Regions from separate parts of the Homo sapiens genome. Here regions 2 and 3 are each reported to be linked to region 1. The links are microRNA targets in miRTarBase. Many come from high-throughput screens and were not tested one by one. Region 1 holds a microRNA gene; each other region holds the end of a gene's coding sequence. Distances are between the middles of the regions.
Evidence for each region. The annotated mature microRNA hsa-miR-4251 reads CCUGAGAAAAGGGCCAA and lies in region 1 at 2,036-2,052, shown strand. An mRNA with a match to its seed (bases 2 to 7 or 8) in the 3' UTR can be bound and repressed. Matches are read on the target gene's strand: a 7mer-m8 pairs with bases 2 to 8, a 7mer-A1 pairs with bases 2 to 7 and ends in A, and an 8mer does both.

Region 1 (4,150 bases):
TAGCGTTTGAGTGGCGGATCTTCCTGTGAAACCTTGTAGAGAGCCCGGGCAGTTATCTGATTATGCATTGATCGGGCTGGCTCGTCCTTAGGTAATCCTCTCCCTCTTGCAATCTGTGAATATACAACTGTTTAAATATTCCAAACCGAACTGTCTCAATAAACGCGGGGAGAAAGGGGCCATTGTGGGCCCGGGCGCCGCTGGCCGCTCTTCCCGGCCCAGCTCCCCTGGGCTTGCAGAGGCACAGTCGGTCCCCGCAGCTCTCGCCGCCGCCGCACGCGGCCAGCCTGGCTGTGCCTGGGAACAGTGTCGGCCAGTCTGGCCCCAGGCCAGCCCTGGCCACAGGTGCCAATGGCATCCTCCTCCCCAGGTCTCTCCCATGCCCCCGGGGGCTCAGTCCACTGCTCAGGTGGACAGGGCAAGGCCGGAGGAGCTGGCTGCAGGTGCGCAGGAAGGGACAGGCCTGGCTACCTGCAGGCAGCACCTGGGGTCCAGACAGCCCTCAACGAGGGACAGTCAGGTCAGATCAGGTGGACCCAGACCCTGCTGCGGTTCCTGGAATCCCTAGATGAGCTTTGAAAACCCAGGGGCCTGTACCCAATCCCAAGCAGTGGCCTACCGTGCTTGAGCTCTGTGGTGGGCAGAGGGCTGGGGACTGGACCAGGAGCCTCCAGCCCTGGGCTCTGTCAGGGACCCTGCCCTGTAGGGCTGGTGCTTCTGGAGTGAGGGAGGAGTAGACAGGAACCAGTCCTGGAGGTGGGCTCCCCACTGGGCCTGGGACAATGAGGTGCCCATCGCCAGTGATGGTCACAGCACCTCGAAAAGGCAGAGACAGGAAGATTCCAGAAGGGCTTCTGATTCTGTGCAGAAGCGTTGTAGATGGGGCATGGTTGCTCTGGTGTCAGGCCCGGGCCCGCTGTCTGTTCCGGCAAACTTTAGGGGATCGAGAGCTTACTCTGGACTCAGCTGGGAGGCCCCTCGAGCCTGGGAGCAGGGCAGGACCACCATCGGCCCCGGACACAATTGCTAGGGTCCTGTCCTCACACTCTGGCTCAGCCCAGCCTGGGCCCCGAGCTGGAGGCCTGCAGTGGGGACGAGACTTAGATGTTAGTTTTAAAATGAAAAGGGAAAGGCCAAGGAAAAGAGAGAGAGGCCCAGACGGTCTCTTGTTTTGCAAAACTCAAAATAGATTTCAGCACTGTGCTTTCTAAAGACAAATCTTTGCACTCTTCTGCGATCCTCGCTTGACCTCTCATGGTTTCTGGCAAGGACAGCCTGTTACGATTTGGCATCGAGTTATTTAAAATGCATAACGGCGGTGCGCAGGCTTTGCCAAAAGCTGATATATGTTGGTTTCTGGAACCTTGCTTTTCTTGTTTGCTACATCTGATATCATCTTACCCAGACGATGCCCTCGTGAGATAGATCCCCCACCCCTTCACATTGTGGGTGCAGCCAACGTATTTCATTTTATTGCTTGCACGATCTGTGTGTCTGGAGAGAAAGCAAACCAGTTACCAGCGAGCCACAGCCTAGCTTCCCCGGGCACTTGGGGAATCTTTATCGAGCTCAAATGATTAGACCTGGTTTCTGGTTTCATTTTGGAAGACTGGCTGCTAAGCAGATCCATTCTGCCTGTAAACTGATACAGATGCTCAGGGCCACTGCTTTCCCCAGTGCCCAGGACAGTAGGACGAGGGTTGAGAGGGACCCCCCTGGGCCATGTCCCCCTTGCGGTGCAGAGGCCCGGCCTGAATCTCTGAGCGAGAGGCCGGTTTGCCTAGGGTGAGTGTGAAGGCCTGAGGCCTGCCCCATAAAGGCAGAGCGTCCCCATGGTGTGGGGGGACAGTGGGAGGCGGGCAGGCCATGAGCCCTGGGTTCGGGGAGGCTGCAGGCGCTTGGCTGCCCATCAAGGGGCCTGGCTTCCTGGAACAGAAGCCTGGGTGCTGTGGCCATGGAGGAGGGGCTCCCGCCTCTGGTCAGCCTTCTGGCATCTGGGAACACGTCCTCCAGCTTTTTTCCTTAGTGGCCAATTCCTGAGAAAAGGGCCAACGTGCTTCCATCCACTTCAGAGGGCACTTGTATGAAAATCTCCTCCCCTCCCCCGTCAGCCCCGCTGTGGAGGGATCAACTCCGCCTCTCACTGGAGAGAGACAGTCATTCTGAGTGTTCGGAAATTGAAGACTAGATCTGGGTCTGGTTCCGTACCCATGCCCTGTGATGACAGACCCGTGATCTCTCTTCTGAGAGGGAAACAAAGACCTCACGTTTGACGGGGCCAAGAGGCAGCCGTGGGAATCTGCTGCTCACTTTCAACACTGGGTGCCTTGTCCTAGAAAGTCTGGGGTCGTCAGATCAACTTTGATTTCCTATTTTATCCCAGTTAAAGTGGCATTTATAGTATTCGGGGGTTGCTTCTGTCCTGCCTTTTTCTGATCACGACATCCCATGCACGGCTTTGGGAAACGCAGGTCACAGTAGCAGGGCATTGAAAACCCTCCCTCCGCATGGCTCCGCACCCAGGACCCTGGGGTGGCTCCACAGTGGCTCCATTTTCTCCCACAATGGTGACCTGCAGGCTCAGGGCATGAGGGCCGAGGACTCTCACTCGGGAACCCAGAGGGTGATCGGCCACGGTGACCGGCCGGTGAGCTGTGGAAGGAAGCGTCCAGCCCTCTGTGGACTGCCCTGTTCCTCCCACCATGCTACTGGAGACCATCCCACCATGCTACTGGAGACCATCCCACCCGGGTCGGTGGCTGTTTTCCGGTGGTGGCAACGCTCCAATGGCTCTGGTTCCCTTACTGGAATCCTTGGGCGTAGCCTGAAGAGTGGACAGCTATCCACAGCCCAGTGAGTGCCCTGCTGGGAGCTGGAACTGTTCGGCCCTCACTAACACCAGTCCTGGGGAGCCTGCCCTGGCCCCAGGTGGGGGTGCGCAGCCGTGGCCGGCAGCCTTGGTTTCTTCATCTGGGAAGTGGGAGCGACTGTGCAGATGAGATGAGGAGGGTGGCCCTGGGGAGGCTGGGGTGTGGTCGCTGCTCCCCTAGCAGGAAACCAGGAGGGAGTCTGGTGCATGTGTGTGTGGGGGGTTGCGTGTGCATGTGTGTGCGTTTCCTGGCTGGTGTGCGTGCATGGGTGAGTGTGCACGTGCGTGTGTGGGTGTCCTGCCTGGCGTGCGTGTGTGGGTGGGTGTGGATCCTGCCTAGTGTGTGGGTGTGTGGATATGTGTACATGTATGTGTGTGTCTTGGCTGGTATGTGCATGTGGGTGCGTGTGTGTGGGTGTGTACATGTGTGTGTGTGTCCTGCCTGGTGTGTGCGTGTCAGTGTCCTGCCTGGTGTGTGTGTGGGTGTGTGTCCTGCCTGGTTGTGTGTGTGTGCGCACGTGGGTGAGTGTGTGGGTGCGTGTGCACGTGTGTGTGTGTCCTGCCTGGTGTGTGCTTGTGAGTGTGTGTATCCTTCCTGGTGTGCATGTGTCTGTGTGTGCATGTGTGTGTGTGTGTGGCCTGTGCACTCACAACACTGGCTGAACCACAGGGGTGTCGTCCAGGGCTGCTGAGGGCACCTGGGAAAGGAGCCGGGGCAGACCCTCCCTGCTGGGTGCTTGAAGCTGAGGGTCAGGACGGGATGGGGACCCGGGGCCCTTGAAGCAGGTTCTCCCAGGTCCTCCGCAGTTACGTGGGAGAGCCCAAGGGCCCTCAGTGCCACAGGTAGGGGCAAGGTCCTCCTCTAGCACTGCCCAGACCCTGTACGGAGCAGAAATCCCTGGAAGAGAAAAGAGAATTGGGGTTTCAGAACCCCTTTTTCCAAGGAAAGAATTTCTCTGCTCCCAACAGGAGCCTGTCTGATTCTCTTTCCCCCTCTCTGTCTCTCTCTGTCTGATTTTCTCTCCTCTCTCAGTCTCTCTCTCTCCTACTTCCCGCTTTTGCTTTCCCTCTTCCCAGGGCCCCAGCAGGGTCTCAGCCATTTGTATCCACTGAGGGCATCCAAAAGCGTTGATGGGCCAAGGCGACCAGCTGGGCTGGGAGGGCAGTGCAGGCGGCTTGTTCTGGGACAGTGAGGCCCAAGCACCCCAGAGGGAGGTGGAGACCCCCTGGGCAGACTCCTGCTCCCCCAACAGGTCCTGGGCTGCGTGCTCAGTGTCCAGG
Region 2 (4,000 bases), not on the chromosome of region 1:
CTTATGAATGTAAAGGGTGTGGGAAAGCTTTCATTCAGAAGTCAAGCCTCATTAGACACCAGAGAAGTCACACAGGAGAGAAACCTTATACGTGTAAGGAATGTGGGAAAGCCTTCAGTGGCAAGTCAAATCTCACAGAGCATGAGAAAATTCATATTGGAGAGAAACCCTACAAATGTAATGAATGTGGAACAATCTTCAGGCAGAAGCAATACCTCATTAAACATCACAATATTCATACAGGAGAGAAACCCTATGAATGTAATAAATGTGGAAAAGCCTTCTCTCGAATCACATCACTTATTGTACATGTGAGAATTCATACAGGTGATAAGCCTTATGAGTGTAAGGTCTGTGGGAAAGCCTTCTGTCAAAGCTCATCTCTTACTGTGCATATGAGAAGCCATACAGGTGAGAAACCCTATGGTTGTAATGAATGTGGGAAAGCCTTTTCTCAGTTCTCAACCCTTGCTCTGCACATGAGAATCCATACTGGTGAAAAACCTTATCAGTGTAGTGAATGTGGGAAAGCTTTCAGCCAAAAGTCACATCACATTAGACACCAGAGAATTCATACTCATTAAAGTTCTCTATGAATGCCTTGGATTTAGCAAAACGTTCAGCAGATTTTACACTTAATAGTGTATTGGAAAATTCATTTTACATTAAAGTGACATGAATGTGGGAAGTCCTTCAGCAGCAATTCAAAACTTAAATACTATGATGTTTAATAAGTATTATAGTGTAAAGAAAACCCGTACCCCCAAAACTCCCACAACAAGCATTATCAATGCTGTACTTCTAGGAGTATACTCATTAAAGTTAGGATCTAGTCATGGACACTACTTAATGTGTTCCTGGAAGGCCTACAGATGCATTAAGAAATAGATATGAGATGTATGAGGATTTGAAATTAAGAGACAAAATTATCATTTTTGTGATGTTTTGCTACATATATGAATTGTAAAACTAGAATCATCAAAATTATTTGTTGTTGAAGCAGTCATAAAACTGAGACTGAGACAGAATATTGAATTCAGAAATGTGTGCATGAATATATGGGGAATTGGTAATTGATAGAGGCGGTATCCCAGATTGGTGGGGAAATCATGGATTACTTAAAAATTAATTGACTCTTCATATGGAAAAATAATATCTCCCATCATAATATAAAATATTTTTCTTATGAATTCTTAAAGTACTAAAGACTAAAATGCAAAAAGCAATACTTAATAATATAACAGTTTTATAAGAAGATGTTTTTAAAACCTTAGGGCAGGAAAGAACTTCTAAAACATTCCAGAATACCCGGTAGTTCCACTCTTGAGTATGGTAGTCCCCTATTTTCTGCAAGAGATGGACTCTAAGACCCCCAGTGGATACCTAAAACCCAGATAGGACCAAACTCTATGTCTATGTTTTTTTCTTATATATACATACCTATGATAAAATTTAGTTTACAGATTAGACACAGCAAGAGATTTAAAACAATAATAAACATAATATGGAACAATTATAACAATATACTGTAATCATAAAAGTTATGTGAATATGATCTTTCTCTCAGAATACCTTATTGTACTGTTCTCAACTATTTATGAACTGTGGTGACTACAGGTAACTGAAACCATGGAAAGCAAAGCTGTGGATAAGGGGGAACTACTATATATATGCATCTACCCAAGAAACATGAACACAGGGAGTCATGTACTGGTCTATAGCTGTATAGTTCATTGCACCATGAGTTATAGTAGCCAGAAGTTGGGAAACAAATGCTGTCTCTTGTGAAATAGATGAATAAAATGTGATAGTAACATAGTAGAGTACTCTCTAGCAGTTAAGTGACAAATTAAGTCTATATATTAACAGAAATATTTTTAAAAAATTAGAGTGAAGAAAAATGATGAACATATTGTAATGATGCTTCTGTGAATTTGAATAAAATCAACACTAACCAGCCCTAGTACTAAGAATTGGTTATGGATAAATTATGTAAAACTAAAGAATGGATTGAAAGGATATGTATATACTCAGTTCCCAAAAGTGGAGTGGTTACCTCTAGGAAGAAAGGAGGTGGAAGGGAAATGTTACCAAGCATGGTAGTTAAAGGATACTTCAATTTTGTATCTATTTCTTATTAAAAAGAAACATTCTAAGTAAACATAACGAAATATTAATTCTGGGTGGTGGTAATATTTGTGTTCATTCTATCATTCGTGCTATTTATTTCCTTAAACTTCTGAAAGTTAAAAAGTCCAGATAGGAGTGAGGAAGCTGTACATGAAACATAATGGACTTACATTCCTAGTCAGATACTAATATTCTGTAGAAGATATTTCTAAAATCTTATCTTTAAAATATGAAATAATTTTTAATTGGGGTGGCAACTTAAATTCAATTAAAATAACTCATGTGTCACAAGAGTAAATTTTACATAATCTGTACGTAGTTCTAATCTGTATATAGTCTTGGAGGTTATGATTTGCCACAGATTGGTTGGATCACATACATTTAAGGATCATATTATTAAATAATATATGCACAGACATGGAGAGAATTAGTTTTTACTAAAACATTTATCAGAAATTTTAATACTCTGCATAACCAGTATTAGCATTAGAAATTAGCCACTTTTAAAATGAGAAAACTGTGTCACTCTTCAATTTTTTTATAAGCCATTGAGGAAAACATTAACTCCTGGATTTCAGCTTCACTTTTAACCTGCAGACTAAATTTCTTTCTCAATTATGTCAGACACACCCAAGTCAATCCCAACCCCCTTGTTACCTTGGGAAGACCGTGCTGAAAAAGGAGATCTTCCACCTAAACAGTGTTCTCTTATTTGAAGCAAATCTTTTTGAGAATTTGTTTACTTGATTTCTTTCCACAATAAACTGACAGAGAACGCTACTAATGATTTTTTTTTTTTTTTGAGACGGAGTTTTGTTCTTGTTGCCCAGGCTGCAGTGCAATGGCACAATCTTGGCTCACTGCAACCTCTGCCTCACAGGTTCAAGTGGTTCTCCTGCCTCAGCCTCTTGAGTAGCTGGGATTACAGGCATGCGCCACCATGCCCGGCTAATTTTGTATTTTTAGTAGAGACGGAGTTGCACCATGTTGGCCAGGCTGGTCTTGAATTCCTGACCTCAGGTGATCCACCTGCTTCGGCCTCCCAAAGTGCTAGGATTACAGGTGTGAGCCACCACGCCTGGCTAATTTTGTATTTTTAGTAGAGATGGGGTTTCTCCAAAGGCTGGTCTTGAACTCCCGACCTCAGGTGATCCGCCCACCTTGGCCTCCCGAAGTGCTGGGATTACAGGCGTGAGCCACCGTGCCCGGCCTGATGTTTTTGAATGATTATGAAAATGGGTATACAGCATTAAAACCTTAGACTGATTTTAAATATATTAATTTCTTTTAAACTCAATATAATGTTAATATTACTGTAGCACTTACTAGCATTTCTGAAGGTTGGTCTTGAGATAAGATTGAAAATGACAGTTGTTGATTTTCTGAGGTAATATACCCAAATAAAATATATGTATGTGTACATGAATCTAAACTGTCTTCTTCTGTTCCTCATTTTGCTTTACTTAAATAATCTTTCATATTTTTTAAGTGTTTTGCCCATGTGCTTGGGTAGCCTTGAAGTCACCAGAATAACTAGGACTCAAATTCAGACCAAACCAGGACTAGCTTTTTGTGCCATGAGTTAGCCATGGTCCTGGACCCAGCAAAAAGAATGATTATGATGGTCAGAGTAAGATGAGCAATTGCAACATAATATTCTCTAATATTGTATACTGTAAATTTATTCAGCTGCCCTCGTTTACTCACAGTTTGCTTATTTGCCACCATAAGAAATGGTACAATAAAAATTCATGTAATCACCCCTTAGATTTCAGTTGTTTTTATTTCTGTGGGTCAGATTACAGGGAAGGGATTGGTAGATCAAAGGATTGATGTTATTTTAAAATTTTTAATAGATGTTGTCAGAGTC
Region 3 (4,000 bases), 64 Mb from region 1:
GCATTTTTCATGAATATGGATTATAGTTGGGAAAACCTTACTATCTGATTTGGTATTTAGTTACACACCCCATGTAAATATTGCCTATTATATTCACCAGCCCTCAGTTATTCCAAGTGCCCACTCCTAATTATCCATCGATAGCAAAGAAAATATTGTGACAAAACAAGTTTTATTTTGCAAAACATAATGTGATATGAACTCCACTACAAAATACGGGAACACATTATTTTTAAATTATATAATCCAGCAGAAGAGAAACAGAGTGAATGGAGGTCTAGGGACTGAAAGGATCTCTTGTGGCAAAGGGGAAGAAGACAAAAATACATCACCCAAGATGTGGTAAAGGGGACCAAGAACCACTGAAAAAGTAGTGCAATATGTCTAGGAATAGAAGAAACAGACTGTGTATATATATATATTTGCCTTGTCAATAACATGCATCATTCAAACAATCTCTAATAAAATCTTAGTGAATTAATCTAATGAAAATATTCACACAGTATTATGTAGGCAAATATGTTTAAAAAAATATTTTAATAAGCATATTCAGAATGGCAGACAAGGAATGGGAGAAGGGAATTATTTTACAGTGCAAAATTACTATGCATAAATTTAACATCTAATTTGAAATTTTAAATGCCTATTTAAATATTACTTCAAATACATTTTAAAGCTCAACAAACTTGTGTTGAACTGAATTGCAGATCCTGAACTCTATTTGAAAATACATCATGAAACAGAAAATACCCATTCCAAATGAAAATGATAGTGCTTTGTTGGGGGTGGGAATGAGGCGGGGAGACTAAATCACTATTAACAGACTTCTTTTTCCAATGCAATTTGTCAAAAGTTCAAAAGTTCTGAAATGTACTAAATCTTAAGCAAATTAAATTCATGATATTACTAAAACTTTTTAAATAGTGCAATGACTTATCAAGTTATAGTGGCTGCATTAAGAACAAATTATTGTGTGAAATACCTGTATAAACACAAAATACAATTAAATATTTCTTTACAAAAAGCTGAGCATTACGCATAATAGTGGAATGTCTTTCATTAGGTGTATTTTTTAAAGATTAACAAAAGTAACATTTCCTAAAATGTATACATGTGCCATATTTTTGCAAACATGCCTGAGAATGTATTTAAAACATTTCTGTAGTAAGAGTTTGCAAGAACTTCACAAACCTGCAAATAAAATGCATCTTTTTAAAAAGGTGAAAATGGCATCTCCAACACTGCAACAATTCAAAAAGTACAGCATCCCTAATCTTTAAAAACATTTCTACAGACCATCTTTGACAAAGAGCTAGGATACTTTGGATTCATTTAATAAAAAATGATTTAGAAAACAGATTGTGACCATCTGCTTGCTAAAGCTACTGCCATTCTGGATAAATTAAAAGTTTTAAGTAAAACAAAAACAACAAAAAACTCATACTTCTCAACACTTCCACCCAAAACTTTGATTTACTTAGATATGTATGTAACAACAGTGAATGTACATTAAGATGAAGTCAAGTGTTGCAAAGTGGCTTTTAACACTGTTTGGGAAAAAAAGTTGTTCACATTGGTGAAGGGAAGCAGTCCGAACATATGTTAACAGTAATACTTCATGGGGGTAAGGCCTGAATGCTAATTTCTCAGTGCAAACCTTCACTCAATTACATCAGACAGTTGAGCCATTAAAAACAAGACCACAGAAGCTTTATTTTAAAAAGGCATTGGCTCTTGAACTGATGGCTGAAAAATGAACTGGAAGAAGCATTTGGAGTATGCCTGTGTGAGAAAAACAAGAATAATTAATATTTTATAAAAGTTTGGATATAGGTTGGTCTATCAGCTATATAAAACTACATTATTTAACAAGAATTTAGCACTAAAAATAAAATGGCACTTTTACAAGGCTATGCAGATGGATAATCCTATCTGTAATCACACAGAGCAATGATTATTGTGTATCTTATTTTCACTTTGGAAAAGCATTATCAAATCTGAAAAATTGGATTGTAACTAGAAAAGTTTGAAAAGTTTTCAAACTTCACTTTCTCTTCATAAAATCGATACTGCCTGCCAACAGTTGTTCCTTGTGTGTGCCAATATCTAAGTATCACTTGACCCCCCTCCTCTGTTTATTTAATGCAGAAATGGGAAATTTTATGATGCATATAAAAATAACAGGATTCTGGTCAGCATGATATATTTAAGCACTTAAGCTGACATTAAACTTTTGTCTTGCTTCAAAAATAATTTTGAAAATTATAGCAAATGCAAAACAAACTGCAATCTAAGCATCATGCTTAATTTCAGAATTCTCAAATTACTTGCCCTTAAGTAGAAATTTAAAAAAAAAAAAAAAAAAAAAAATTTTATAATCCTTTATGAATGCTTTAACCACCTGGATAAGAAATATGACTTAATTACTACACAAACACTTAAAAATTCATTAGAAAAACCTTAGCAAAATAAAATGAAAGCTGACAGACTCAGAATAACAATTCCTCTCATAAAAGTTTACCAACTGTACAAGTTAAGAAAATTATACACGCTTTTGTATTAAGAAAGGACAGCTCAGTCAAGACATATGTACTGTAAAAATCTTTCAAAGGCTACAAAGAATCTGGAAAAATACAGAATGTATTTCTTAAGCCCAGATAAGAATATGGAAAGACATCATTGATGTCAACAATTTTACATATACAAACCTGACCTGGTTTATTTTTAAACTTCTATATATAAAAAAATCATGCTAGCATAATTTTCAGGATTCGTAAGGGTTTCCTTAATAAAGATACTCAAACTGTTTGGTGAGAAAAATGTCTGTTTTAAAGACATTTCAAGAAACTCAGAGAAATTGGTATTAAGCAGAAATTTGGACTTGAGTTTCCCATTCATCCATCAAACTAAGCAAAAATTACCTTGTAGTGAAATTTTATGATTAATACATCAAATGAGAAGGTACAGATACATCTTTAGTTCATTCAGATTTACCAAAATTAGTAAATCTGAATGAACTAAAGATATTCAAATGAGAAGGTAGAGATATATCTTTAGTTCATTCAAATTTACTAATTTTTAAAATACCCTTAAAAGAGTCTGACAGCTTTAAAGTAAAAAAATCTGCAAAAGGCAGAATTATGAAACCTCATTTCCTAAAGTTAAGACTCAATTCAAATTTTCAAACTGCTTCAAGGAAATCAACTTTTTAAGGTAACCCATCAACCCTGAAAATTTTAGTCACACCAGAATTTACTCCAAAGAAAGTAAAATAGGTCTAAAATTTAGTCATCTGTGTTTTCAAGTTCTTCAAATTTCCCATGTGAGACTGCTTCTTGGAAAAATTCAGAAGAACCTGGACTTTCTTTTCCATTGCTGTTTACCCTTCGCCTTTTGGCAGGTCTCTCACTTTTTTCATCAAAATCATTTTCATTTCTTGCAGTCATATGGGCAAGTTTTGGGTCAGTGGTAAGGTTATCTGTTTCATAACCATTAGTATCCATATCTGCATGAAGTGGTTTCTTATTTCCACCTGTTGGTCCATTAATGTGTAACCCTTCAACTTTTACTTCCTCTTTGTTTAATATTTCACCTGGTCCATTAGATGACACTCCTAAGTTGAAAGAAATATAAATGAAACCACAATTAGAAAAAAGTTAAATTTGCAAACTATTATAAAACAGCTTGTAGTTATTGTTATCAAGGAAGCAAGGTATCAAATACATAGTCTAAATTCTTGCTCTATTACTTATAAGCTATGTCGCCTTAGGCAAATTATTTACTCTTTCTGTATCTCCATTTCATTACATATATACAATGAAGATCATAATAGATATTCCTCACAGGGTTGTTGTGAAAATTAAATAAGTTAATAAATGTAAAGAACTAAGAACAGAATTTGGCATATGTTAAAAGCATATTAGGTATATGTGACAGCAAACAAGCACTGGATCCAGCAGTCTAACTAAGCTGAATTAATGGAAAATGCAGTAAATTACTC

Region 2: miRTarBase lists ZNF260 as a target of hsa-miR-4251. Seed matches in the 3' UTR shown: 7mer-A1 at 1,562-1,568.
Region 3: miRTarBase lists MIER1 as a target of hsa-miR-4251. Seed matches in the 3' UTR shown: 7mer-m8 at 1,137-1,143.

The regions. Positions count from the first base shown.
Region 1 is chr1:3,125,974-3,130,123 of GRCh38, forward strand. It overlaps MIR4251 (microRNA 4251), which reads left to right and starts at 2,002; the gene lies at 2,002-2,062. The region is part of intron 1 of PRDM16 (PR/SET domain 16); the gene reads left to right. RefSeq lists enhancers at 212-822, 2,266-3,191.
Region 2 is chr19:36,510,584-36,514,583 of GRCh38, reverse strand. It overlaps ZNF260 (zinc finger protein 260), which reads left to right. Exons shown (of 3, transcript NM_001166037.2): 3 at 1-3,897. The coding sequence ends at 584. Among named protein-coding and RNA genes, the nearest start is that of ZNF260, 16 kb to the left of the region's middle.
Region 3 is chr1:66,984,185-66,988,184 of GRCh38, reverse strand. It overlaps MIER1 (MIER1 transcriptional regulator), which reads right to left. Exons shown (of 14, transcript NM_001077700.3): 14 at 1-3,613. The coding sequence ends at 3,285. It also overlaps a transcript of SLC35D1 not described here. Among named protein-coding and RNA genes, the nearest start is that of MIER1, 61 kb to the right of the region's middle. RefSeq lists silencers at 3,412-3,612, 3,600-3,649.